Homo sapiens: one gene and its partners. The protein of the gene in region 4 purifies or fractionates together with the protein of the main gene of each other region. This does not show direct contact. Each region holds a gene or a part of one and is shown on either strand. Other genes may lie near its edges. The genes, in order: FBXW8, EIF5B, LSG1 and TTC29.

Region 1 (7,479 bases), on a different chromosome or scaffold from region 4:
GATCTTGAGATAGGGAAGGTTATCCTGGATTGCCAGGTGGGCCCTTAGTAATCACAAGTATCCTTCTAAGAGGGAGGCAGGCTGGGCATGGTGGCTTATGCCTGAAATCCCAGCAGCTCAGCAGGCTGAGGTGAGAAGATTGCTTGAGGCCAGGAGTCCGAGACCAGCCTGGACAACATAGGAAGACCATGTCTCTGCAAAAAAAATTGAAAAATTAGCAAGGCATGGTGGCATGGAAATCCTGGAAATCCAGGACATTGTAAACCGCTCCCTGTTCTCCCAAGAGCTGGAAATATGACTGCCTTAGGCCAATCAGATGGTCCTCCAGGAGAGTGGTTCTCAAACTGGGTTATGCATCAGAATTACAGGGAGGGATTGTTAAAATCAAAATTGCTGGGGTTGGACCCCTAGCGTTTCCAATTTAGTGGTCTGGGCTGAGAATTTGCATTCCAAACAAGCTCCCAGGTATTGCTGGTTCAGGGGCTACATTCTGAGAACCTCTGCTCTCGGAATTTGAATCCTAGGAAATGAAAGACAGGCAGCGATCCCATCCTACAGAGATGGTTCACAGTTCCCATGATGAAATCCCTAAATCTGATCTGGTTCTTGGCATTCCAAGGGTCTGGTTATTCCTCTTTTTGTTTAACTTGGTGAGCCATCCTCTGAGTTTAATTCCCTTTTTCTTAAGGTAGAAAGACTTGGCGTCTGTTGCTTGCAAACAAAGAACTTTAACAGATTGAGCTTGCAAAAGTATACCCTCAATGTGATAAAAGGTGGGGCCCTGTGGAATACAAGACTTACAGAGCACAGGTTAGATGCAATCTCTATCTGCCAAGACTGTATTAATGTGGATCATAGACATCATTTATTAAAAGCCTACATTATGTTTTATGGATGCTAAGAGTTTTATAGGCATTTTATCAGTCTTACAGTTATTCTGAAAGAAAGATATTTCTATCTTTACTTTTCATTTGAGGAAATGGAGGTCCAGGAATTTACTACTGGAAAGATATAAAATCAACATAAATATAGTCAGTGAATGGTAGGCAATACTAAAAAAAAAGACAATATTTTCCTTCTTCTTAGCATGCTTCTCTCTCTCTCTCTTTTTCATTTTCTCTGGGTGACTAATGGTCCCATTAGCCTGCCTGCACTGTCCCTGTAAAAGTTCTTTTAAAGGGGCAACAGGAAACATTGATCTTGACCAGCTTGGGTGGTCTTGACCAGCTTGGGTGTTTAAAATTGATCTTGACCAGCTTGGGTGTTTAAAATTTTCCAGTTTGAGCCTGGAAAATTGGGTGTTTAAAATTTTCCAGTTTGAGCCTGGGCTTGGGGCCTAATGCTTGTAATCCCCCGAGGTGGGAGGATCGCTTGAGGCCAGGAGTTCAAGACCAACCATTTGACCAACTTCATCTCTACTAAAAACTTAAACATTAGTCTGAGATAGTGGCATGCTCCTGTAGTTCCAGCTACTTGGGAGGCTGAGGCAGGAGGATCACTTGAGCCCAGGAGTTCGAGGCTGCAGTGAGCTACGATCATGCCACTGCATTCCAGCCTGAGTGACAGAGTGAGACCCCATTTTTTTTAATTCCAGTTTGCTTTCTGTTTTAAGTGTTAGATGGTCCATAAAATCTAGAGATACCAGAAAAGTGATATTTGGCTTTTGACTTGCAAGTAGATAATCAAAGTAAGTATGACCTTTGGATTTCACATGGAAGGCACATGGGATGAATGGGATGCTAGCGGAATGGGGAAAAATTAGCTCGTTTTTATTTTTATTACAATAATATTTATTGGCAGCAGCCACTGATGAGCAGCAGCCATGTTTCTGTGGTCTCCCATGTCTGTGGGTCTCAGTGAGGGCCACAAGGTGAGGACCAAGAATGTGAGCAAGCATGGCCACTGCTGCCACCGCAGGCACCCCACCAAGCACAGAAAGTTCGTGTGGGACATGATGTGAGAGGTGTGTGGCTTTGTTCTATATAAGTGATGCACCTTGGAATTGTTCAAGGTCTCCAAGAAAAAGTGGACCCTCAAGTTCATCAAGAAGAGAGCGGGGACACACATCTGCACCATAAGAAGTGAGAGGAGCTGGGCAATATCTTGACCTCCAGGAAGCGAATGGCTGCCAAGAAGAACTGAGACTTCTTCCCCTTCTGTGTATAATAAAACCTTTACGGAAAAAAAAGAGAATGCTTACTTGTATTGGATGCTTATGTTCCATCTTGCATCACTTCACTCATCTTTTACCTTAGTCACTGCTGTAGCAACTGGCTTTGTGCACGTGTAACCTGACAGTCGTTCCTGTTAGCTGCACAGTGTACCTCCTGCTTTTTGCCCCAGAGCATCTCTGCTGCCTTGGTACGGAACATCCATGATAATCCGTTTACTTATACCCAATCTAGAAGTGGGAGGTTGTTAAAGCTCCTTGGCTTAGCCTTTCTCTAGTAGGGGATGAGAGTCACTGGACAAATGCTTTCCTCTTCTGGCTCTTATCTCTTGGGAGGACAATTCTGAGCTGTGTTCTAAGGCTCCTTAGAAGGTGCTAATGGAATGAGCCTAAATTGCCACAGTAGGACCAACTCAGAGATGCTCTTTCTTTTTTTTGTTTTTTTGAGACAGAGTCTCGCACTGTCGCCCAAGCTGGAGTGTAGTGGTGTGAATATACGCCCAACCATATACTCTAATTTTCTACAGTGAAGGTTGTCCAAGCCTGGTTTCCCACAGTAAGCAAGCCTGAGCCCTGGGTTTGTAGGCAGCTAGTTTATTTACAGAAGTGATTCTAGAGAAGAGGCCTGAGAGACTAAGAAGAGTTAGACAAGGAATAAGGGACAGTTAATTGCAAGAGCATCTTTGAGCCTGGAGTGGTGGCTCACACCTGTAACCCCAGCACTTTGGGAGGCTGAGGTGGGTGGATCACTTGAGGTCAGGAGTTCAAGACTAGTCTGGCCAACATGGTGAAACCCTATCTCTACTAAAAATACAAAAACTTAGCCAGGTGTGGTGGCGGGCACCTGTAGTCCTAGCTACTCAGGAGGCTGAGGCAGGAGAATGGCGTGAACCCGGGAGGCGGAGCTTCCAGCGAGCCGAGATCGCGCCACTGCACTCCAGCCTGGGCAACAGAGCGAGACTCCGTCTCAAAAACAAAACAAACCAAACAAACAAACAAACAAAAAACCATTTATTGAGCATGTATTAATCACCAGTCTCAAAGCTAAGAGTTGCCAATCTAGAAGGGAAGGGATATATATATATACATAAAAATAAAATTACAAATTGTGTTATGTATTATGATGAGAAGTACAGGATGCTGTGAGAATGAGTAACAGGGATACCTGATGTTTCTTGAGTGGAGGTTGGAAGATTAAGTGAAATGTGAGTTGAGATATGAAAGATGTGTAGGAGTTAACCAAGTCAAGGTGGGGGGAAAAGTTCCCTGCTGAGGGAATATCAGGTGCAAAGAAAACATTTTTAAGTGGAACGCCATCGTATGTCATTTTCTTTCCCATCTTAAAGCCCTTGGATTTCCTTCTGGAAATCTCTCTCCTAAGATCTGACCTTCCCTTGGCTGGTTTCTCTTTCAGATTTTTAAAAAAAAATTTTTATTTCCACAGGTTATTGGGAACAGGTGGTATTTGGTTACATGAGTAAGTTCTTTAGTGGTGATTTGTGAGATTTTGGTGCACGCATCACCCGAGCAGTATACACTGAACCCAAGTTATAGTCTTTTATCCCTCCCCACCTTCCCACCCTCCCCTCGTCCCCCTCCCCTGTTCCAAAGTCCCATAAGTCATTCTTATGCTTTTGCATCCTCGTAGCTTAGCTCCCACTTATATGTGAGAACATACGATGTTTGGTTTTCCATTCCTGAGTTACTTCACTTAGAATAATAGTCTCCAATCCCATCCAGGTTGCTACGAATGCCATGAATTCATTCCTTTTTTATGGCTGAGTAGTATTCCACCATATGTATATATCAGTTTCTTTATCCACCTGTTGATTCTCTTTTAGATTTTAATTTAAATAACATCTTAAACAGACTTTCACTATCAATCCTTACTCCCCTTACCTTACCTTATTTTGTTTTCTTCCTAATACCTATCACTGATTTAAATGTTCATATTTCTTTGTTTAAAGTCTCCCTACTTAAACGCATGCTCCAAGACGTCAGAGTTTTTGTTTTGTTTTACAGATTTAAATGCTGAATTCTTGGTGCCTGGCATATAGTAGTTGCTGAATGAATGTTTGTTGAATGAAGGAACAATGCTTGGCGCAAAGTCAGAGCTTAGCAAAAGTGATAGGCAGCAGAGCTGACGGGCTGAGGGGCAGCTGCGTAAACCTCTGCTTTGGGCGCCACAAGCCACAAGCCGGACCACCACGTGCGTACAGGGGCAGCGCCGGGGGCGTGGCGGGGGCGTGGACGCCCACCCGGAACCCTAGAGCGGCGGCGGCAGCGGCTTCCGGCCGCGGCGGACACTTCCCTGGGCGGGACTGTCTCGTGGCACCCGGTGGAACCGAGGAGAACGTGGAGCGCCGGGAGCGGCGAATATGGACGACTACAGCCTGGATGAGTTCCGTCGGCGCTGGCAGGAGGAGCTGGCGCAGGCCCAGGCGCCGAAGAAGCGGCGACGGCCCGAGGCTGCCGAGAGGCGGGCTCGGCGGCCGGAGGTGGGCTCCGGGCGCGGCGAACAGGCCTCGGGGGACCCGGCGCTGGCCCAGCGTCTCCTGGAGGGCGCGGGGAGGCCCCCGGCGGCGCGGGCGACTCGGGCCGAGGGGCAGGACGTAGCGAGCCGCTCACGTTCTCCTCTGGCCCGCGAGGGCGCCGGGGGCGGGGAGCAGCTGGTGGACCAGCTCATCCGCGACCTGGTGAGTGGCCGTCGCCTCCCCCCCGCCCATGCCTGCGCCGGCCCCCGCCCCCAGGACAAACCCCTGCAGTGATTTGGAGAGTAACTGTGTGCCACTAGTTGCCCGAGAAAATGAGTAGACGCACAAACACCAATGTTTGTGCTTGCATAGGGGTCTTTCTGGAAGCAGCACTTCCCAACCAGGGCGATTTTGTTCCCCCAGATGTGGCAGTGTCTGCAGACATTTTTGGGTGCCTCATCGGGGTGTGTATGTGTGCATGTTACTGGGCATCTAGTGGGTAGAGGCCAGAGATGCTCCTGAACATCCTACAGTGTACAGGACACCACGCACAAAAAAATTATCCAGGACAAAATATCAGTAAGTGTGGGGTTGAGAAATCCTGCTCTTGAAGGCTACCTAAACTTTGAACAAAGGTTGCCTTTGAAAAGGAGGACCCAGATGATGGATAGGAAGTAATTTTACCTTTGTATACTGTTTGCACTATTTAATTTTTGTAACCGTGCACGTATTCAAAAAAATTATCTCAGAAAAAAAGGAAGAAGAGGAGGAAGAATCTCCTGGGCACTTTCATTAGGATAGAGTTTCTTATCTTTTTGTGGGGCGTGGATACCTTGGAGAATCTGGAGGAAGCTGGGGACCCTGTGTCCGTTAAAAATAATCCCCTTCAGAAAGTTGGGAAAATCAAGAACACCTGAAATGCATCCGTGGCTCCCAGGTTAAGAGGACAAGGCTCCAGGTTCTAATGGTTTGATTTAAATTAGGCCCAAAGGAAGTCCCTACAGCTTTACAATTGGGAACCCACTTTTTTTTTTCCTGTTTTTTTTTTTTTTTCTTTCTTTCTTTCTTTTCTGAGACAGGGTCTTGCTCTGTTGCCCAGGCTAGAGTGTACTGTTGCTCTCCCGGCCCACTGCAGCCTCAAACTGCCTGGCTCAAGCCATCCTCTTCCCTCAGCATCCCGCGTAGCTGGGACTACACGCATGCGCCACCACACTCAGCTAATTTTTTAAATTTTTTGGTAGAGACAAGGTCTCCCTGTATTGCCCAGTCTGGTCTCAAACTCCTGGGCCCAAGTGATCCTCCCAATTGAGAATCATTCTTTTTTTTTTTTTTTTTTTTTGAGACGGAGTCTCGCTCGCTCTGTCGCCCAGGCTGGAGTTGCAGTGGCGCGATCTCGGCTCACTGCAAGTTCCGCCTCCTAGGTTCACGCCATTCTCCTGCCTCAGCCTCCCCAGTAGCTGGGACTAACAGGCGCCCACCACCACGCCCGGCTAATTTCTTTTTGTATTTTTAGTAGAGATGGGGTTTCACTGTGTTAGCCAGGATGGTCTCGATCTCCTGACCTCGTGATCCGCCCGCCTCGGCCTCCCTAAGTGCTGGGATTACAGGCGTGAGCCACCGCGCCCGGCCGAGAATAATTCTTTTAAGTGGCAAGCTGTTTCAAGAAATAATGGCCTATTATTTTATGTAATATGTAGTTTACTCAAATAGCATTAATAGCTACTATTTGAGTTTTTACCAAGTGTTTAGTCCTGTGCTCTGCCCTAATTCGAATATAACAATCCTGTGAGGTAGATTTTAACTCTCCTTTTACAAATGAAGAAACTCAGAGATTCTCTGTAACTTGCCCAGCATTACCCCACTGATAGATTCTGGGGATTGAATTTGGATCCAGGTCTTTTCAACTCCAAGTTTCACCACGTGAACTTGAGTTGGCATAAGAATCACTTGAGGCTTGGTTATAATATAGGTTCTGGGCCCTCCCCAGACCTGCTAACTCCATCACCAGGGAAGGGGCCCTGAAATCTGATGACTGGTATGATCAGGCAAGTTTAAGACATTATACTCTACTGTATAGCCTCCTTTGGTTTAAGGTCCTGATTCTCAAGGCTTTCCATTTGTAACACCTTAGAGGTATAGGCATTGATGCCAAAAATAGTAAAGAAGCAAATCATGTACAGTTGACCTTTGAACAACCTGGGGGGTTAGGAGAACTGACCTCCTTGCAGTCAAAAATCTGTGTATAACTTTTGACTCTCCCAAAACTTAACTACGAATAGCCTACTGTTGACCAGAAGCCTTATAGATAAGTCAGTTAACACATATTTTGTATCTTCTGTGTGTTATATACTGTAGCATTATAATAAAGTAAGCTAGAGGAGAAAGTGTCATTAAGAAAATTATAAGAGAAAATGTATTTACTATTCATTAAGTGAAAGTGGCTCATCACAAAGGCCATCATTCTCATTGCCTTCATGCTGGGTAGGCTGCTGCTGCTGCTACGAAGGAGGGATTGGTCTTGCTGTCATAGTGGTGGCAGAGGTGCAAGGAGAGGCAGGCACATTCGATGCAACGTTTATGGAAAAAACCTGCATACAAGTGGACCCACGCGGTTCAAACCCATGTTGTTCAAGGGTCTGTAGTATTCTGAAAATAGAAGGGACCTGCATACTGGAGAATCTGGAGGGTACATCTGAATCTATTTCATGTTGTTGGAAAAGGCCTTCCCTGTCTTCCTGGAATTCATTTCCCTGGTCTCCTCTGCCCCCTTCAGAATCACCACATTAGGTACTACTAGGTTCTCTATGAGTAGCATACAACTTTTGGGGCACCTCT
Region 2 (7,026 bases), on a different chromosome or scaffold from region 4:
TCTCCTGGGTGAAGGTCCACACTTTAAAGATTTTACTGTCATTCCACCTCCCCTCCTTGGCTATGTCAGGCATGTTTCTGGCAAGGTGTGAACTGTGTGAGAAATGACAACTGCTTATTTAGTTATCAAGAGAAGGCATGGAGCCACTTTTCAGTTCTTGGACAGAACATACAATACTCACTGTCCTTAATTCTTATATTTAATTAATCCTTATTTTAACTTCTTAGCCACTCAGTATTCATTTAAAATTAGATTTTAACTTACCTAATTTTATTTGTACAGCATGTGTCAGTGATCAAGATATTTATTCTTGTCTGTGTATTTTTAGAATTCTAGAATTTTGCTTAAAGACCAAGTTCTAGAATTCTGTTCCAGTTTGTGAAAAATCTTCTTTTTTTTTTTTGAGATGGAGTCTTGCTCTGTCACCCCGGGTGGAGTACAGTGGCGCGATCTCCACTCACTGCAACCTCCGCCTCCTGGGCTCAAGCGATTCTCCTGCCTCAGCCTCTCAAGTAGCTGGGATGACAGGCGCCCAACACCTGGCTAATTTTTGTGTTTTTAGTAGGGACAGGGTTTCACCATGTTGGCTGCCTGGTTTCAAACTCCTGAACTCAAGTGATCCTCCCACCCTGGCCTCCCAAAGGCCTGGAATTACAGGTGTGATTCACCACGCTCAGCCCCAGTTTGTGTAATTCTAAGAATGAGATTTTGATGTGGTGTTTGTTCAGCAAGTTTTCCTGACCTTTTTCAGTTGACTCGGGAAACTTGTTGAGACAAAGGCTAGGATTCAATATCCACATATCAAACAAATATAATACACATAGCCTAGGTTTAATAAAGGAATTCATTTCTTACTTGCATATATTTGAATGAAACTCTTGTCTGCATAAATTACATCAAAAAAAGATGCATAATCAGAATTCTTTTGGTCTAGCCTGTTCCTATCCTGACGCTTTAGGAAGTGGTAGGGGAAGAAGTCCTAGTTTGCTATAAATTAATAAGAAAACAGATTATAGATTTTTGTTGATAGTAACCTCTCTAGCCTTCCATGCTGTCCCTGTGGGGAACTCATTCAGCTACTTTTAATGTTACTTGCTCATTTGTTGTGCTTTATTTATGCTTCTAAGTTTATTCCAGTATTGCAGTTGATCTATAAGGTGGGCAGAGTGTTGTTTTACCAAGGAACTGAGTGTCAGTGGTTAGGTTAGAATAGCAATTCTCAAATTCTGGTCCTAGACTCCTTTACACTCTTAAATTCCTAAGGAACACAAAAGGCTTCTGTGTATGTAGGTTATATCTACCAGTTACAGGTATTACAAACTAAAACTGAAAAGTTCTTCAAATATTTAATTTAAAAATAAAAATAAACTTACACTATGATACATAACATTATTAAATAACCATATTTTCAAAAATAGAAGAGCTAAGCGTTTTTGCAAACATCTTCACTATTATATGACTTAATAGAAGATAGATCCTCACATTTGCTTATGCATTTGATCTGCAGCATCATCACACATCATTTAGCTTCTGAAAAACTCCCCTGTACAGTTGTGAGAAAATGAGAATGAAAAAGGCTAGTATCCTCTTAGTATTATTTTGAAAATAGTTTTGACCCCCTAAAATAGTTTAGATTCCCTAAAGAGACCTTGGGAATGAATTTGAGGACTGCTGGCCTAGGGATTTCTAAACTAGATTTAGGCATTTGTGAGACATTTCTCAAGCTGTTTGACCATCGTTCATGTATGTCTTACAGGTGCTGAGAATGCTTGAGAATCACTTAAAGGCAACTGAAGACATCTGTGGGCATGTTAATGTTCTTGATATTTTAACAATTTGAGATTTTTCCTTTTTTTTTTTAAATGTAATACTTGCCAAGGTAAATATCAGTTGAGATTGATTTCAATTGGGAGTCCATTAAGTTTATAGATTATTTGTGACACTTGACATCTTTATGGTGTTGAATCATTCCATTCAAGAAATATATTGAGATTTAAGCACTTGAGTGCCAGATATTTTTCTGGATGCTAGAAATATATTTGTGAACAAATAAGTAATATGATTTGCCTCTCCATTTAGTTGGTTAATTTAATTCTATAACAGTAAAATATTATTTTCTTCATTTTAATCTTTAGGATTTGGCTTTTTCCCATGTATCACAGAATTTTTGTTGCTGTTAATGTAATCATTCCTCCCCCTCCTTTTTTTTTGGTAAATTGTAAAATTTTGTCTTTTTTGTCTCCTTTTCTCCTTCCTTTCTGTTGAGAGATGGAATCTCACTCTGTCACCCAGGCTAGAGTGCAATGGTGTGATCATCGCTCCCTGTAACCTTGAACTCATGGACTCAAGCAGTCCTCCCTCCTCAGCCTCCCCAGTAGCTAGGACTGCAGGCATACACCACTGTACTCAGCTAATTTTTAAAAATTTTTTGTAGAGATGGGGTCTCGCTTTGTTACCTAGGCTGGTCTTCAGCTCCTGGCCTCAAGTGATCCTCCCATCTCAGCCTCTCAAAGTGTTGGGATTACAGGTGTGAGCCACTGTGCCTGGCCTGGGTTGTCTTTTTCTTTCTTTCTTTCTTTCTTTCTTTTTTTTTTGAGACCGGGTCTTACTCTGTTGGCCAGGCTGGAGTGCAGTGGCGTGATATTGGCTCACTGCAACCTCTGCCTCCTGGATTCAAGCGATTCTCATGCCTCAGCCTCCCAAGTGGCTGGGACTACAGTGCCACCATGCCCAGCTAATTTTTGTATTTTTAGTAGAGATGCGGTTTCACCATGTTGGCCAGGCTGGTCTCGAAATCCTCACCTCAGGTGATCCATCCGTCTTGGCTTCCCAAAGTGCTGGGATCATAGGTGTGAGCCACCGCACCCAGCCTGGGTTGTATTTTTATTGTTGGGTTGTAAGAGGTCTTGATATAGTCTGGATACTAGATCCTTATCAGATATATGATTTGCAGATACTTTCTCTGATTTCTGTAGTTTGTTTTTTCCACTGTCTTTTAAAGTTTCTTTTTCACAAAAGTTTTAAATTTTGTTGAAGTCCAGTTTATTTTTGTTGTTGTTGCTTGCATTTTGGTGTTGTATCTGAGATAATCTGTTGCCAAATCCAGGGTCGTGAAGATTTACCTGTATGTTTTCTTAAGAGTTTTATTGCTGGCCGGGCACAGTGGCTCATGCCTGTAATCCCAGCACTTTGGGAGGCCGAGGTGGGTGGATCACCTGAGGTCAGGAGTTCGAGACCAGCCTGGCCAACATGGCAAAACCTACTACTAAAAATACAAAAATTAGTCGGGTGTGGTAGCACGCGCCTGTAGTCCCAGCTACTCGGGAGGCTGAGGCAGGAGAATTGCTTGAACCTGGAAGGCGGAGGTTGCAGTGAGCCAAGATTGCACCACTGCACGTCAGCCTGGGTGACAGAGTGAGACTCCATCTCTAAAAATAAAAAAAAAACAAAACTTTTATTGCCTTATCTCTTGCATTTTGGTCTTTGTTCCAGTTTGAATTAATTGTTGTATGTGGTATGATGTAGGGGTTCATCTGCATTCTTTTTTTTTTTGAGACGGAGTCTCGCTCTGTCGCCTAGGCTGGAGTGCAGTGGCGCAATCTCAGCTCACTGCAAGCTCCGCCTCCCGGGTTCATGCCATTCTCCTGCCTCAGCCTCCCGAGTAGCTGGGACCACAGGCACCTGCTACCACGCCTGGCTAGTTTTTTTGTATTTTTAGTAGAGACGGGGTTTCACCATGTTAGCCAGGATGGGTCTCGATCTCCTGACCTCGTTATCCGCCCGCCTCGGCCTCCTGAAGTGCTGGGATTATAGGCGTGAGCCACCGCACCCGGCCTGCATTCTTTTATATGTGGATATCTAGTTGTCCTAATACCATTTGTTGAAGAGAAGATTTCTTTCCCTATTGAAAGGTTCTGGCACCCTTGTCAGATCATTAGATGCTAGATATATGGATTTATTTCCGGACTTTAAGTTTTATTTCTTTGGTCTGTATGTCTGTGTCAGTGTTGCCACCACAGTTTGTTGTTGTTGTTGTTGTTGTTGTTGTTGTTTCTGGGTTTTTTTTTTTTGAGACGAAGTCTCACTCTGTCACCCAGGCTGGAGTACAGTGGTGTGATCTCTGCTCACTGCAACCTCCGTCTCCTGGGTTCAAGGGATTCTTCTGCCTCAGCCTCCGGAGTAGCTGGGATTTTAGGTGTGCGCCACCAGGCCCGGCTAATATTTGTGTTTCTAGTAGAGACAGGGTCTCACCATGTTGGCCAGGCTGGTCTCAAACTCTTGACTTCAAATGATCCACCTGCTTCAGCTTCCCAAAGTACTGGGATTATAGATGTGAGCCACTGCATCCAGCCGGCACCACAGTTTTGATTACTGTGGTGTGAATTTCCTTAGATGAAAAATTTCAAACACATACAAAAGTAGAATAGTCTAATGAACAAACATGTGTCCATCACCCAGGTTCAAATTCATTCATAAATCTCATTTCATATGTATTCTGCCCCCTCCTTTCTTTTCTCCATTATCTTGATACAACCTCAGACATTTGTAAATATTTCAAGAAATTATATAATGTATTATAAGAAACATTTATATCTTAAATATAAATTTTTAGAAGTGGTACATTTCATTCATTTGGAAAATTCACATACAATGGAATCGTTGTCTGTGTTGTCAGATAAATGAAATGTCATTGTACTTTTTCAGAGGCATTTAAACTAGCGTTTCAATTTATTGCTTCAGAAAATTCCATTTGGAAGTTTTATGATCAAAAGTACAGTAATTATTATAGTGTTAGACGTGTTTTTTATTAAACTGCTGTGTTGAAACTGGTTAGCCTTGCCTGTTGTATGAGAGTCGTGATTGCCACTCCAGAATAGGACTTTTTCCTTATTTATTAGTGCCTATTTGAAATGTCTAACATGCGACCGGGCATGGTGGTGGCTCGTGCCTGTAATTGCAGAACTTTGGGAGGCCATGGCGGGTGGATCAGTTGAGCGTAGGAGTTGGAGACCAGCCTGGCCAACATAGCAAAACCCCGTCTCTACTAAAAATACAAAAAATTAGCCAGGTGTGGTGGTGCATGCCTATAATCCCAGCTACTTGGGAGGCTGAGGCATAAGAATTGCTTGAACCCGGGAGGTGGAGGTTGCAGTGAGCCAGGATTGCACCACTGCGCTCCAGCCTGGGCAATGGAGTGAGACTGTCTCAAAAAAAAAAAAAAAAAAAAGGAATGTCTAACATGCCTTTCTGGTTGCCACTTGTAGAACATAGGTAGGTGGGCGGGGTGCGGTGGCTCATGTCTGTAATCCCAGCACTTTGGGAGGCTGAAGCAGAAGGATTGCTTGAGGCCAGGAGTTTAAGACCAGCCCGTGCAACGTGGGGAGACCCCATCTCTACCCCCTAAAAAAAATAGCTGAGTGTGGTGGTGTGTGCGTGTGGTCTCAGCTACTCAGGAGGCTGAGGTGGGAGGATTGCTGGAGCCTTGGGAGGTCAAGGCTGCAGTGAGCCATGTTTGTGCCACTGCACTTCAGCCTGGGTGACAGAGCTAGACCCTGTCTCAAAAAAAAAAAAAAAATGTGGTGAATTGGGAATACAAAAGGGAGTTTGCTGTTCTCAAAGGGAGTTACGTTTTAACATAGCAAATAGGCATATGCACAGATAATACAGAGTGAAGTGCTGAAGGGAGAAAATGGAGTATGAGAGTACCACCCTCGAGATTTCACATTTGCCTCTTAAAGTTATTGTTTATGCATCTTTAAAATCCTTTTCTAATTAAGTTTGCCATCAAGAGAGCGTGCAGATTGGAAGGAATGGGAGTATGCTGTGTGTTTCTGTGTCTCTAGAGTACCAAGGGTGACCATGAGGAATATTTGAGATCTTCAGTTGCTCCTGTATTGCCAATAATTTTGTACACAGGTGCAGCCAGACCATTCTAATGATGGTGTTCACCAAATTGGTTATTCAGAAATCTGGTCTTGAGAGTGGTTGTCTACATAAAACTTTTTGTTAAAATTTATTAGTAATTATTAGTTTGTTAATATTAATGATTTATTAATATTAGAGTGCCAGGCACTATACAAGTTAGGTGGGGAAAATCCTTTAACAGTGATTAAGGATCAGAGTTAACTTCTATGGAGTACAGAGACTGAGTTTGCTTTGAGCACTTACCATGTGATTAGTTATTTTAGAACATAAGTTGTATCTCTTTTTTTTTTTTTTTTTTTTTTTTTTTGAGAAGGTGTCTCAAGCAATCTCAGCTCACTGCAAGCTCCACCTCCCGGGTTGATGCCATTCTCCTGCCTCAGCCTCTCGAGTAGCTGGCACTACAGGCACCCGCCACCACGCCCAGATAATTTTTTGTATTTTTAGTAGAGACGGGGTTTCATCGCGTTAGCCAGGATGGTCTCAATCTCCTGACCTTGTGATCCACCCGCCTCGGCCTCCCAAAGTGCTGGGATTACAGGTGTGAGCCACTGCGCCTGGCCCATATAAGTTGTATCTTAAGGTGTTTATTGAGAATGTGGATCTGAATTTTTATCAATATTATATATATCTGCAGACATAATCCTAAATATAAACTTGTATCTCTGTAATTATGAAACCCAAAATATTCTTTTTTTATTATTATTTTATTTTATTGAGACAGAATCCCACCCTGTCGCCCAGGCTGGAGTGCAGTGGTCTGATCATAGCTCAGTGCAGCCTTGATCTCCTGGGCTTAAGTGACCCTCCCACCTCAGCCTCCTGAGTATCTGGGACTACAGACGCATGCCACCACACCCAGCTAATTTTTTTGATTTTTAGTAGAGATGAGGTCTTGGTTTATTGCCCAGGCTGGTTTTGAACTCCTGAACTCAAGTGATGTTCCTGCCTTGGCCTCCCAAAGTGTTGGGATTACAGGCATGAGCCACTGTGCCAGGCCCCCAAATAGTCTTATATCAAATAGTAACAAATATAAAATTTTGTAAAGTTCCAATCTGCAGTATTGATTTGAAAGATGATGCCACGTTGTTGAATCTAAATCAG
Region 3 (7,026 bases), on a different chromosome or scaffold from region 4:
AGATGAGTCCACAGCTCTCCCACCTCTGTGTTTTATCCCAATTCCACGTGGGAACCTATGATTTCTTGCCTTAAATGTAAACTTTAAAGGTGGCCTGGAGAACCTTGTGTCTACCTAAAAAAAAAAAAAAAAAAAAAAATAGCAGTGTGGGAAACATTTCCGTGCGTGGGTGACTTGCCTTTACAGGGATTGCTGCTGGTTGGGAAGGAGTTCAGCTTATTTGAGTATTTACTGGCAGAGAAAGGTGAAAGGTGATTTGATATGAATCACACTTAAACCTTGAACTTAGAGACTCTAAAGAGGATAAATACTAAACACTTGTGGTAAGACTATTCTAATTACAGATTCATAGAACAAGAAAAGACCTTAAAGATCACCTCACCTCCTAGCCCCTGCTTTTAAGAGTAATCATCCGAACTCAGAGCCTGAGCTGACCCAAGGTGAGGTGGCTGGTCAGTGGAATAGCCTGGGTGAGATCTCCCTGCAGGATGTTAGCCTGCAAAATGCAGAAAGGTGGACTTCCACCAAACTTCCAGTTTGATTGTACTTCCGATACAACTGAAAATAATGTGAGTCTTTTAAGATGTTTCATCTAATGCTGCCTGATAAAATCAGAGTAAGGAAAAAGCCAGTTTGTAAAAGCAAATGACCACACGTACAATTTCTAAGTTCACTATCTGCAAGTCCATATAGAAGAAAATCTCTGACAGTAAATTTTCAAAGATATTGCCAGATTACTCTCATTTTACTTTGTATTTCTTTAAATACTAGTGAAGTTGAGCATCTTTCCAAATGTTTTGTGACCATTTATTTTTCTTCTGGGAATCACATTTTCCTATACATGGTTCTGTCTTAATGATTTGTAAAAGTTCTTTGTTATATGTGCTACACATTTTTTCCAATGTTAATTTATGGTTTCTTTGGCCCCAAAGAAGTTGACAATTTTAATAGACTATATTTTTCCTTTTTGGTTTGACTGGGTTTGGTGTTTTACTTGGGAAGGTCTTCTCCCTCCCAAAAAGATAAAACTATCTTCCTGTAATATTTACTTACTTTTTTAACATTTAGATTTTTAATCTGACGAAATTTATTGTTGTATATTGTGTAAATTAGGATTCTAACTATTTTCTTCGAAACTGGAAAAGCCAGTCGACAGCTAGTATGTGAGGGAACTGAGTTTTGAACGCAGCCTGTCTGCTGAAGCCGTGTTCTTAACCACCATGCTTCGCTGCTTTTCTAATTGAGTTAGTATTAAAGGGATCTTACTGGGGAAAAAAATGTAGGTACATCATTCAGTAAGAAAACTTCTCTGTTGCTTTCTGTTTTGCAAGTAGTATTGATAGCGTAGCATTCTCCTACAGGTAGCCTCCATGAATAAATGTTTAAAATAAGGAGGCTGGGTGTAGTGCCTCACGCTTGTAATCCCAGCACTTTGGGAGGCCGAAGTGGGTGGATCACCTGAGGTCAGGAGTTCAAGACCAGCCTGAACAACGTGGTGAAACCCCATCTCTACTAAAAATACAAAAAGTAGCCAGGCGTGGTGGCATGCGCCTGTAATCCCAGGTACTTGGGAGGCTGAGGCATCAGAATTGCTTGAACCTGGGAGGTGGAGGTTGCAGTGAGCCAAGATTGTGCCTCTGCACTCCAGCCTGGGCAACAGAACGAGACTCCATCTCAACAAAAAATAAAATAAAAATAAAATAAAGAGAAGAAATAACTGGAGTAGAGAGAAATCGAATTTGTCTTTCATAGCGTGGTGCTAGGTGGCATTTTTAGGATATCAGATATAAGTAAATATTCTCCTGGATTATCTAGTGTTTTTAATGCTAAACAATATATATTCTACAATGATACCTAATTTTTTAAAATCCAAGAGTAAGAATGCTTAGTAATAGAAGCTACATCACCTCAGTTGTCTTTGTTGTGATATTCTGTCATCTAAGATTTTGCAAAATTCTTTTCTCTCCACAGACATGCGAGGATTCATGACAGCGCATGGACAGCCAGACCAGCCTCGATCTGCGCGCTACATCCTGAAGGACTATGTCAGTGTAAGTGAACCCTGCCTCTCATGCTCTCCAATACACAAGTCTTTTCCACATTCTGCGTTCTTAGATAATGGTAACCTGTTCGATTATAAAGGAAATATTTTTTCATTGAAACTGGAGTTGTGTTCTTGATGTAGGGTAGTTAACATTATATGGATTATAGACATTACAAAAGATGGAGATCTCTGAACACCTATTATGAGTGAAAATCACCAATATATGCATCTGGCTTTTTTTGTCTCCTACAGCCCTTTGCTTGTTATGATTGCAACTATTGTCACAGTCTTCTTTGTAGTATAGCTGTTTATATGCCTATCTCTATATTTGCCTAGTAACGATAACAGCTAACATTTCTTGAAAGCTAACCCTGCTAGAAATAGTTCTGTTTTACGTGCGTCTTCTCAGTACAAATATGTAACAAGTCTGTGAGATTACTATTTCTCCTTTTCAAATGAGAACATGCTATTTGGGGGTTTCCCCATAGTAAAATGGAGATGAACAGGGCCTATCTCATGAGATTATTATGGGAAATAAATGAAAACTCTGTGTGTGTGTGTGTGTGTGTGTGTGTGTGTGTGTGTGTGTGTGTGTCTGTCTGTGTGTGTGTGTGTGTGTGTGTGTGTGTGTGTGTCTGTCTGTGTGTGTGTGTGTGTGTGTGTGTGTGTGTGTGTAGCACTAAGCTCAATGCCTGGCACATAATGAGCCCCCAGTAATTGTTATCTATTAAGTTTCTTTCCACAAATAAGCATTACAGGGCCCTGTTAATAACCAGTTGTGAGGATTTGGCTTTATTTCCTCCTCTTCTCAAGACCACATCGGTGGAGCTCTTGGAGCTCAGTGGCAACCATATGGGCTTGCCTTCAGTTCAGGAAGAAAGCAGTTCATGCTATTGGTATGGATAAGTCATGTATTCGTTTACCACTTACTGTGGAGGATGTAAAGATGAGGTAAAAATAGTCACAGCCTTCAGATCATTTATGATGGAAAGAGGCAGACTTGCACCCAGTGAGCAACTGCAACCCCACATACAGGAGTCGAGGAACTCTCCTGACTTTAACAGTCTAACCCGGCATTACCGTAACTGTCCAGTTATGTCTTGAGTTTTGTTTTGGAAAATATTCACCATAAGTATGATCATGTCCGTATACTGAAGAATACTTGAGTGGGAATGCAAACGAGAAAAGAAGAAAGAGATTTCATCCTAGTCTGGGGCGCCATGGGAAGAGCTAGGTCTCTAGAACACTTTGACCATTGATGTATTAGAAAAAGGACTCTTCAGCTGCAGTAGACCAAAACTCAACTCAGCTAACTTAACCAGAAGGCAGAAAGCTCCATCAGAGTGTGACTGGGTGGAGCTGTCTCCTCTGAGGCCACAGATGGCACTTAGGCTGCACTGTTGTCATTCATGTTGTCTTTGTAGGGTAAGCTGCTGTACTGCCATCCTCCTCCTGGAAGAGATCCTGTAACTTTTCAGCATCAACACCAGCGACTCCTAGAGAACAAAATGAACAGTGATGAAATAAAAATGCAGCTAGGCAGAAATAAAAAAGCAAAGCAGATTGAAAATATCGTTGACAAAACTTTTTTCCATCAAGTAAGTTTTAAAGCTTTTCTTAAACTTCTGATCCAACACTCTTTTTATAACAGCTTTATTGAGTATCACATGCCATAAACACATTTTATTAACCCCAAAAAGGGTTTAATAATTCCAAAAAGGGTTTAATAATTCCCAAAAGAAACCTTATTTATTTATTTATTTATTTATTTATTTATTTATTTATTTTTATTTTTTTTTTTTGAGACGGAGTCTCGCTCTGTCGCCCAGGCCGGACTGCGGACTGCAGTGGCGCAATCTTGGCTCACTGCAAGCTCCGCTTCCCGGGTTCACGCCATTCTCCTGCCTCAGCCTCCCGAGTAGCTGGGACTACAGGCGCCCGCCACCACGCCCGGCTAATTTTCTGTATTTTTAGTAGAGACGGGGTTTCACCTTGTTAGCCAGGATGGTCTCGATCTCCTGACCTCATGATCCACCCTCCTCGGCCTCCCAAAGTGCTGGGATTACAGGCGTGAGCCACCGCGCCCGGCCGAAACCTTATTTATTAGCAGTTACTGCCTGTCCCCTTTTTTCCCCCAGCCCCTGCCAACCAATAATCAATCTTTATGAACAGATTTGCCTGTTCTGGAGACTTCACGTGACTGGAATCATACTGTGTGCTCTTCGTGACAGGCTTCTTTCATTTAGCGTGGTATCTTAAACATTCATCCATGTTGTAGCCTGTGTCAGTATTTCAGTCCTTTTTATTACCGAATAATGTTTCATTGTATAGATATGCCACATTTTGTTTATCTATTTATCATTTGAGGGACGTTTGGGTTGTTTCCACTTTTTGGCTACTATGAATAATGGTGTAATGAACACTTGTGTACAGGTTTTTGTGGAGACATGGATTTCGTCTCTCTTGAGTATATACCTCGGCGTGGGGTTGCTGGGTTGTATTGCAACTCCATGTTTAACATTTGAGGTATTGCCAAACTTTCCAAACGTGGCTGTGCTGTTTTACATTACTCCCAGTGATGTAGGAGGTTTCTAATTGTCTCCTCATCCTTGTCAATGTTTATTATTTCCCATTTTTTTTTTATTTTAGCCATCCTAATACATGTGACGTATTGCATTATAGTTTTGATGAGTATTTCCCTAATTACTAGTGATGCTGAGCGTCATTTTATGTGCTCGTTGGCACATGTATATTTTCTTTAGAGAAATGTCTATTATTAAGTTGTAAGAGTTCTTTATATATTCTGGATACAAGTCCCATATCAGATTTATGATTTACAAATATTTGCACCCATTTAGTCAGTTGTCTTTTCTCTGAGCCAACACATTTGGTGATAGAAAGTGCTAAAGAAACAGACTTCATAAATGTCTTCTGCACTTTAAAATATTGATAACTTCAGTTGCTTATATCACAGCTACAATTTGTAGGCAGTATTTTAAAGGTCAAATGTACATGCAAAAGAGCTAAATCACATAATTGTACCCAGTGTAGGTTAAAAATGTTTTTAAGTGACTACTATAGCGAAAATAGGACAGGGGTTAGGATGGGGTGATCAGCTATATCCAGAGAATGTTTTTGTATTTATCCCGTGCTTTATCTGCATGCCTTACACAATGAGCCTGTGAAGCAGGCCAAGCAAGTATTATTCCTTGAGGACACTGAGGCTCAAAGAGACTGAGTTACCCAAGGGCATGCTTTAAATTGCAAAGCTGGGATAAAACTTAGATGTTTGTAGCTCCTAGTTTGAATTATTTTCAAGTTGGTACATACCAGTATTTGGAAGAAAATTTACCAACATGCAAAAAGATTGCAAGTTTATTCTTGGGCCTACAGCTGTCATACAGAACATTTCATGTGAAATTTTAAATGTTTACAGGTTTCTAAAAGCTATGTACAAGAAAGCTGAAAACTTGTCATAATTTTAATATAATTCATATGTCTAAACTGTAACCTCTAGAGTAATATTTTACTATTATAAGTAACTTGCAAATCGTAGGGTACTAATTTTTTTTTTTACTAAGTAAACTTAAAATTTGTTTAGAGTCCATTTCTAATGTGGTTGAAACAGGTTAAGTTTTGATATTAAGACAAATTTCCAGAACACAGCTGGTATTAAGTCTAGTTGTAGATGGCATTTGAAAGTATGGGACTAAACAAAGTTGACGAGGGAATGAGGAGGGGGAAGAGATGAACTGAAGACAGAATGCTGGGGGGAGAAAGAGGACCAGTGAAGGGGAGGGGGGCGGAAGTTCACCCAGTGACTGACTCCTTTTTATCTTGAAGTGATCCACTAATAGTACTGTGCATATCCCTTAAAGGATAGCCTGCTGACAGCTCAGATAATGTTTTCTCTTATTTCCTAGGAGAATGTGAGGGCTTTGACCAAAGGAGTCCAGGCTGTGATGGGTTACAAGCCCGGGAGTGGTGTAGTGACTGCATCCACTGCGAGCTCTGAGAACGGGGCGGGGAAGCCCTGGAAAAAACATGGCAACAGAAATAAAAAAGAAAAAAGTCGTAGACTCTACAAGCACCTGGATATGTGAGGTTGGGCTGCAACAGAAATGTCATCTGCATTGTGCAGATGGAAAAGAGCAGAAGCTGCCTGTTGCCTGTGGAACCGTCCCAAGACACTAGCACTGTAGAACGGGCCCTGCTCTTGCAGAGCACGGCTGCACCCAACAGTCTCCATGTCAAGACCAAGGGCCTCCTGGAAACACCAACTCTGACAAAAAGGAGTCATCTGGGAGCCCGAGAATCCTACTCCTGGCCGGGCACAGTGGCTCACGCACCAACATGGAGAAACCCCGTCTCTACTAAAAATACAAAAAAATTAGCCAGGCGTGGTGGCGCGCACCTGTAATCCCAGCTACTCGGGAGGCTGAGGCAGGAGAATCACTTGAACCAGGGAGGCAGAGTTTGCAGTGAATGGAGATTGCGCCGCTGCACTCCAGCCTGGGCGACAGAGTGAGACTGCATCACAAGAAAAAAAATTTGCAAGGGATGGTTCACGAGACACATTTGGGACGAAGGTGAAAGAGAAATTCCCCATTCTGAGTGTCCTAGTTGGGTTCCTCCGACTCTAAACAAGGGACTTGGGTTCAGTTAGTGTACAGCGGGGGCTCACGTCCACTAAGGAACATGTAGAATGTAACCACCGGGTGACAGGGAAGCTGCGGTATTTACTACCTAGCCCCCATCTTCACTGGTTATTCCACTTATTTAAAATGTCCAGAATAAGCAAATCTCCATATAGAGGAAGTAGATTAGTGGTTGCTTCGGGATGGGAGGAATGGGAAGATTGAGGTCTTTCTTTTGCAGTGATAAAAATGTCCTAAAATTGACTGTAGCGATGGTCACACAACTCTGAATATGCTTAAGACCATTGAATTACACACTTTACGTTGGTGAATTGTATGGTATGT
Region 4 (7,026 bases):
TCATTTTGAAGCTCCTGGGTGAACTCTTCAAAGACCCCTGCAATTATGAAGAGATTACCCTGGCCCCAGTGCCCACTGCATAATGCTTTGGCAAGTAAAGTGGGGCTTTTAGAAAAGAGTCTAAAATTTATAGAGGATGGAATGCCCCAAATGAGGCAAACTTAGTTGTTTTCTTCTCTCCCTTTTTAAATTTACTAGGGCTACACTGGTGTGGGTTAAGAACTTAGATGATTCCGATGTTCACTGTAACATTGGAAGACTCTGGAACTCTGTGGAAAAGTCTTCACAGCTCCTCTGAAGTAAGCTCTTGGGAGGCCCGTTTGGGGAGCTTTGGTGTCCCTTCAAACCTCACATGAGTTATAACTTCTTACCATATGCTCTGTATGATGCTGCCATTTAGTAAGTTCTTGTTATTCCAGTAACTCAACTGTTTAATATAACATCTAATCAGAAAAATAGATTTTTTAAATTAAAAAAATTGTCATTACGTTATGAAGTTATAAAGGGTAATATAGTATGTTTCTAATGTTTAGTCTGTAGGAGAGGACTAACATTTGCTGTTTAGATTGTGCACTTTAAAGCATAGACCCTTTAAAGGGTAGACCCTTTGCTTTCCAATTAATGTTCATTAACTTCCACTCTTAATGCCTTAACTGCATAAAATAAGTGGGCATTTTGTTTCATAGATCATATCATGCCTTGATAAACTGGTAGTACTAGGATTCTGTTATATTTAAAATAAACCACTGATCTCCATTAGAATTCTCTTTAATTATGTAAAAAATTATTTTTAGGCCAGGATAATAATCTTTTTCAGTAACACAAAGCTGTCTATTTCTACACTGAATTTCAGAAGATTTTCTCTCGTCTTAGTGCTTCTGCACCCCTACCTCCACCATGGCTTTGTAGCACTAGAGGAATATTGTGTCTTAGCTATCCACAGGTGGTTCTATTTCAGGTTTGACTACATCTCTCCTTCTCTACTCCTACCTAAGCCACCACTCTCTCTCCCCTGTATTTCACAGGAGGTTTTGGGCTGGCCTCTCTGCTGTCTACCCTTTCCCCCACTACAGTCTAACCTGAAAGAAAAACTCAGAGTGATTTTTTCAGGATGCAAGTCAGATCGTGTCAATTCTATGCTCTGTATCCTCCAATGGATTCTTACCTCAATAAGAATAAAAGCCAGTTTTTAGAGTAACCATCAAGACATTACACTATTGGGACACCGAACAAAATTCTCCATAACGTCTTTGAGCTTGTCTCCTTCTGCTTTTACTCATCCCTTTGCCATTGGTGAGCATCTGGGTAGTTTCTAGTGCTCTGCTTTGTTTTCCAGCAGAGAATCTTATCAACATCTGAGGTTCTATATATTTTGCTTATTTGTTTAGTGTCTTTCTCCCTATTTACCCCCATACTGCAAAGTCTGTGAAATCAGAGAGTTTTGTCTTTTTCTTCACTGCTGTATCTTTGGCACCTAGAACAGTGCCTGGCACCAAATAGGAGCTCATTAAATATCTGCTGAATATATTCAAGGCCCAGATTTTATTGTGATTTTCCCTGGGTCACACAGGTAGTAATGCTGAAGATAAGCCATTTAAAACCTAAAACAAGCCTTTCAGCTTCTTGGTGAAGCTAAGAGTACAGGTCAAACCTGGTGGACATAGACGGGGTGGGATCAGGAGCCCCTGGCCTTTTGGATGCCTCTCTATTTAACAGAAGCATGGGTTCTTTTGTATCTGACAGCCCTTGCACCATGTAACAATTTTTCTATTCTAAGTTCACAGATGTCATGTCCACACTTCTTCCTCTTTGGAATAGGATTTAGATAATTTGATTTTATAGACTTGCCTTCCTAATTGCTCACCACTCTGGCACACTGCATTTTCCAAAAAGGGCTGCAATAATATCTCCCATGCCATATTCTTTTATTATAATGAAACTTTGACACTCTCCTATCAATAGGTGGTTCTGTATTCATTTGCCTTGAATCTGGGTGAACTTGTTATTACAGTAGAAGTGGATGCTATGTGACTTCCAAGGTTAGACCCTAAAAGGGGATAAAGCTTCTGCCTGGCTTTTCTCTAAAATACTTGCCTTTGGAGCCTGGAGCTGCTATATAAGAAGTCTTAGGTTGCCATGATGTGAGGGAGTCCATGCCACATGAGGAGACCACATGTGTGAGTTCTGGCAGATAGCCCCAGTTGAGTCCCAGCTAACAGCATCAACCACTAGAAAAGTGAGTGAAGACACTTCAAGGTGATTCCTGTCCCCTGTCATTGGGTTACTACAGCTTCTGAGTTTTCTCAGCAGAGGCTCCCATCATCATGGAGGAGAAAAAATCCATGCCTATGATACCCTGTCCTTATTCCTGAACCATGTAAAGTGTGAGATAAAGTTGTTTTAAACAACTTTTAAAAAACAGTACATTTTGAAGTGATTCATTATATTGTTATGGCTGTGTGCTTTCTCAGGGTAGCTGTCTCCTTGTTGAGAATTGTTCTTATCATCTATCACATCTAAGGGAAAGCCTTTATTTGTGAGCGATAAGGCTTTTAGAAAACAGCAAGTATAAGCAATTTTCAATTATTGATTGTAACAGGAAAGCAACACATAAACATTGGAAATCCATAGCTATCCTTAAAATCTTTATTCTTTAATTGCAATCATGTCCCTTACAAAACTCTTACCAAAGATGCCAACTGAACCATCAATGCATTTATCAAATTTTCTTCTTATCTACTTTGTGCTGAAGATACAGACAAATAATAAGTTGGCCAAAAAGCAGACAATGGAAGAAAATAATGAGAGAAGCAACCTGCAGAATCCACTCACTGAGCATGATTCCCGAATAACACAGCTGTAGCACTACACATAGGCATTCTCAACTAAGATGACAGACTGTAAATCTCTAATAATGTCTTAAAGGATCCTTTGAAAGATTTATTCCTTAAAATACAATTTCTACTTATTTCTTTTTGTAGTCCGAAATGACCACCCTGCCCCCACTGCCCATGACACGCCCGAAGCTTACAGCCTTAGCCAGACAGAAGCTGCCTTGCTCCTCCAGAAAAATTCCAAGGTACGTGCCCCTGGTTTTTACTTATTTTCCTACAGAAGGAATTTTCTGTAATAAGAAATGTCAATAATGTATCTCAGAAAATAAAATCATTTCAAGAGAAGAGAAAAATGCCTTGTTATATTGAGAATATTGAAATCTGCTGTTTCAAAAGGATTTATGAACCACATTCAAATACTGCAAATATATTTATTTATTTATTAACCTAGTGCTTATTTCATCATTTTATTTCCTGTTGCAATTATATCATGGTTCCCGTAGAGTTTTGGAGATAAGTTTCCTGTTTTAAATGTGTATGGAGAACAGAAAGCAGAAGCTTTGGGAATGAAAGGTGTAAAGCTTTTTTCTTTTTAAGGCAGAGTCTTACTCTGTCACCTAGGCGGGAGTGCAGTGGTGTGATCTCAGCTCACTGCAATCTCTGCCTCCTGAGTTCAAGCAATTATCGTGCCTCAGCCTCCTGAGTAGCTGGGACCACAGGCACGCAGCACTATGCCCAGCTAAGTTTTTGTATTTTTAGTAGAGACAGGATTCACCATGTTGGTCAGGCTGGTCTTGAACTCCTGGCCTCAAGTGATTCACCCGCCTTGGCCTCCCCAAATGCTGGGATTGTAGGGATGAGCCGCCATGCCCAGACTGAAAGGTGTAATGCTTTTAATCTACAAGGTCCCAAGGGCTGACTTCTGTTTTGGAAGAAGGAGGGTAGAGCCTTACTTGTAGGGTAGATTGGCAGGCAAGAATCAGCTCCTGAAATGATGCTGGGGCTTGAAAATGCATCATCAAACTGCTGCTGCCCATGAATGGCTGCTGAGCTACTCAAATTGTCACTGAGGAAATGCAGGACAGAGAAATTGATACATTTTGTCATAATTATCATATTAACTGATTGTGCTATTTTGAAATTGCCATTTGTAATTCTATTGACTTTTAGTAACATACATATTAGTTACCAATATAAATAGTTTGCATACGTAGGTTTATTTTCTTTATATGCCTACTTTTCCATTCCTGCAAGGCATAATGATCAAAGTATTAGGAGGTTTCTTTGTTCTCATGCCTCATTTTTAGTATTTCTAGGAAATACCAAAGCCCCTGGAACAAAATAAATACATTCAGCTAAACTAACATAAAAATTCTTTAAAAATAGTAAATCAAAATTTTCTTTTCCTATAGCGGAGAAATCTTTCAATGAATGCATAATTCATGTGTGTACACTATAATATATATACATACATATTTTTGTTTTACTTTTGAATAATGTAAAATATTTATGAAGTCTGAAAAAGCTTATTCTTTCTGTCTTTTTAAAGGATTTAATTTATATTTTGTTTTCAAGGTGAGCAAAAGCATAGCCAAATCTCATATCCTTAGGTTAGGATGAGTTTTAAAGAAAACGTTTTCTTGTATTCATTTTATTGAAGAAAAATATTTTTATCATACCCACAAAAGGCAAAGTTTGTATCAACATTCTTTAATAGCTTCTGAATAAAACACTGATATTTGTTTAGTTCCATATCAATCATCATAGTTATGAGAGGTTGATAGCATGCTTATTTTTAAAGGTGCAAAAGGGTGTGAAGAATGAACGCACTACAAGTATAATACATTTTCAATAAGGGCTTCTTAAAATCATTTTGCACCTTGAACCTTTAATAATTTGAGTTTTATGTGTGATTAAAAAAACTATTCAAAGAACATTTCAGGACAAAATTGAGTAATGTTTGGAATAAATTCACGTTACACATTTGAATCAAACAGGTGTTCTTGGCTCAGGATTCTGTGCCAAACAATATATAACTTCAGCAGTTGGAAAGTTACACCACGAAAAAATGTGAGCAAAATAGAAGGTCTTGTAAGCTTTGAGAAGACTCTTGAGTAGAAAGTGAATTATTTCAAGGTGTTGGTGTTTTATTTGTTTACACACTGGGTTTAATATTCTTCCTTATCATTTTCCATTCAGGAAAGATAAAATTTTGAAATGATCAACCAACGACCTAACTCTATAGCTATTGCGTTTATTACATATGGTATTATACCCTGAATATTTCTATTCTCCTGGTGGCATTTTATGTGTTTGGTAGCTTTTCAACTTGATAAGGCTGTGCTTTATTATTTCTTTCTATTTCATTTAGGTCTCAATTGATCAAAGAAAAAGATGACATAGATCATTATCTAGAGGTAAATTTCAAAGGATTATCAAAAGAGGAAGTTGCTGCGTAAGTACAACCTTTAAAGGTACTTTAATATAAAGTTTGTTTCTTTTGTCTTGATTCTTTATTGAAATTTCAATTTTCCTGTGTAATATACTTTTTCATTGGAACATGGCATTTAAAAATTAAAGCTCATATTAAATAGTGATAAGTCATGTCTATTGATCTCACACATATCAAAGTCTTTAATTTTATGGCTCTCAAAATTCCCATATTTACCAAGATATTATACTATCACATTTGCAATATTTAGTTAAGTCTGTGCTATTAATTGCTTGTTAACCTTCATTTTAAGGTGTGTTGTCTCCATGGGAAAGAAAAAAGCTTTAAGAAACAGATTTATATATCTTTTCTCCTGGTGATTAAAGAAAAAGAAACACCTTACTAATGTACTAATATGTCTCCTTTTCCACCCAAGCACTCACAAAAGAACCAATGGATCATACTTTATTGGTTAATTTTTAAATAATTCCAAATTGTCTAGATTTATTTTTTAGATGAACGATACAAACTTTGACATTTTATCACCAGTTAGAATCTAATTTATGGGATGAATAAAAGCAGTACAAAAATCAATGTAGGTTAGTGAGAAATGAATAGAAACTTAGAATAATAGCTAAACAAGTTTAATATTTCTTACCTATACTTAGTGGCTCTGTTATCACATCTTTTCATGTAAGTATTGAAAAATGGAAATCTTGTAAATTTACACGTATCTTATGGAATTCATTAATTGTTTCAATTAAAATATTTTATGCAACAAATGTTTGTAAAAGATTCTCTCTATTAATTTGTCTAATGCTGTGGGATTCTACTGAAAGGGTGTTGCTAATGATATTTTGGTGTAGGTTTGATATATTCTAAAGTTCTAAGTCTCTTGGTGTTTTCCATTTTATCAGATATTATCTTTGTCAATTTGCATATAACATGGAAAAACACAGTCATTTATTTTGTCAATAACTACTTTATAGAATGACAAAATTTTACAGTAGCTGTAATCACTCACTTCTGCAGAGCTCTATAGACTACCATGTATATGGTACGTGGGATTTTTGGCTAAATGCTATTCTGATGATTAATTATTTAACTTTCCGTGATAAACTGTTAGATAAAATTTAAGGCCAATATTGTATTATAGTACAACTACTTCTTAAAAGAAAAATATATGTATGCCGTATTTGGATTCTGATTTAAATATTATATCCAAATAGTTTTAATTGGCTTAATAATTGGAATTAAATTAAAAACTAAACATGCTACACATAATTTCAACAAACTAGAAGTCCATATACTAAAAGTCTACTGACATTTAAGTTTTCAGTGCAGGCTGAAGAAAAATTTTATCTAAGACAATGCAAAATAGGCTATAGTGATGAGTATTCTCTTAATATTATTTTTCCACTAAAGATACTGCCAAATTGATTTCAAATTCATCATTACACTATTGACAACAGTAACTCTGGGTAATTCTCAGGCCTTACTACAATATTCTCCTTAAAGTTTCCTGCACTTCAGTGCTTTCTTAGACCAAAGCTCTTTCTGTAAGATAGTGGATGCAAATCATTAGTATGGAGATAGCTTGTACACAGGTCATTATTATGCTTTTGATTGATACACATTCTAGACCTTGCCCTAGACAGACTAATTGAATAGCATAAAAAGGAGAAAATTGATGAATGATTTCAGCATCTCCCAGCAATGCCCAGCAGGTGCCATGAAGAATTATGCATAGTCTGTTAGCCA

Evidence for each region.
Region 1: the proteins of TTC29 (region 4) and FBXW8 purify together in Homo sapiens (affinity purification with mass spectrometry; 3 studies listed by BioGRID and IntAct, with this or other methods). This does not show direct contact.
Region 2: the proteins of TTC29 (region 4) and EIF5B purify together in Homo sapiens (affinity purification with mass spectrometry; 2 studies listed by BioGRID and IntAct, with this or other methods). This does not show direct contact.
Region 3: the proteins of TTC29 (region 4) and LSG1 purify together in Homo sapiens (affinity purification with mass spectrometry; 2 studies listed by BioGRID and IntAct, with this or other methods). This does not show direct contact.

The regions. Positions count from the first base shown.
Region 1 is NC_000012.12:116,906,490-116,913,968, forward strand, and holds the start of FBXW8 (F-box/WD repeat-containing protein 8), read left to right. Parts: upstream 1-4,460; 5' UTR 4,461-4,548; coding exon 4,549-4,866; intron 4,867-7,479. UniProt on the Homo sapiens protein: Substrate-recognition component of the Cul7-RING(FBXW8) ubiquitin ligase complex, which mediates the ubiquitination and subsequent proteasomal degradation of target proteins.
Region 2 is NC_000002.12:99,340,385-99,347,410, forward strand, and holds part of EIF5B (eukaryotic translation initiation factor 5B), read left to right. Parts: intron 1-7,026. UniProt on the Homo sapiens protein: Plays a role in translation initiation.
Region 3 is NC_000003.12:194,641,189-194,648,214, reverse strand, and holds part of LSG1 (large subunit GTPase 1 homolog), read left to right. Parts: intron 1-785; exon of another isoform or gene 786-1,971; coding exon 1,972-2,051; exon of another isoform or gene 2,052-3,468; coding exon 3,469-3,642; intron 3,643-5,967; coding exon 5,968-6,147; 3' UTR 6,148-7,026. UniProt on the Homo sapiens protein: Functions as a GTPase. May act by mediating the release of NMD3 from the 60S ribosomal subunit after export into the cytoplasm during the 60S ribosomal subunit maturation.
Region 4 is NC_000004.12:146,935,857-146,942,882, reverse strand, and holds part of TTC29 (tetratricopeptide repeat protein 29), read left to right. Parts: exon of another isoform or gene 1-37; intron 38-198; exon of another isoform or gene 199-227; coding exon of another isoform or gene 228-299; intron 300-2,981; coding exon of another isoform or gene 2,982-2,987; coding exon 2,988-3,079; intron 3,080-5,205; coding exon 5,206-5,289; intron 5,290-7,026. UniProt on the Homo sapiens protein: Axonemal protein which is implicated in axonemal and/or peri-axonemal structure assembly and regulates flagellum assembly and beating and therefore sperm motility.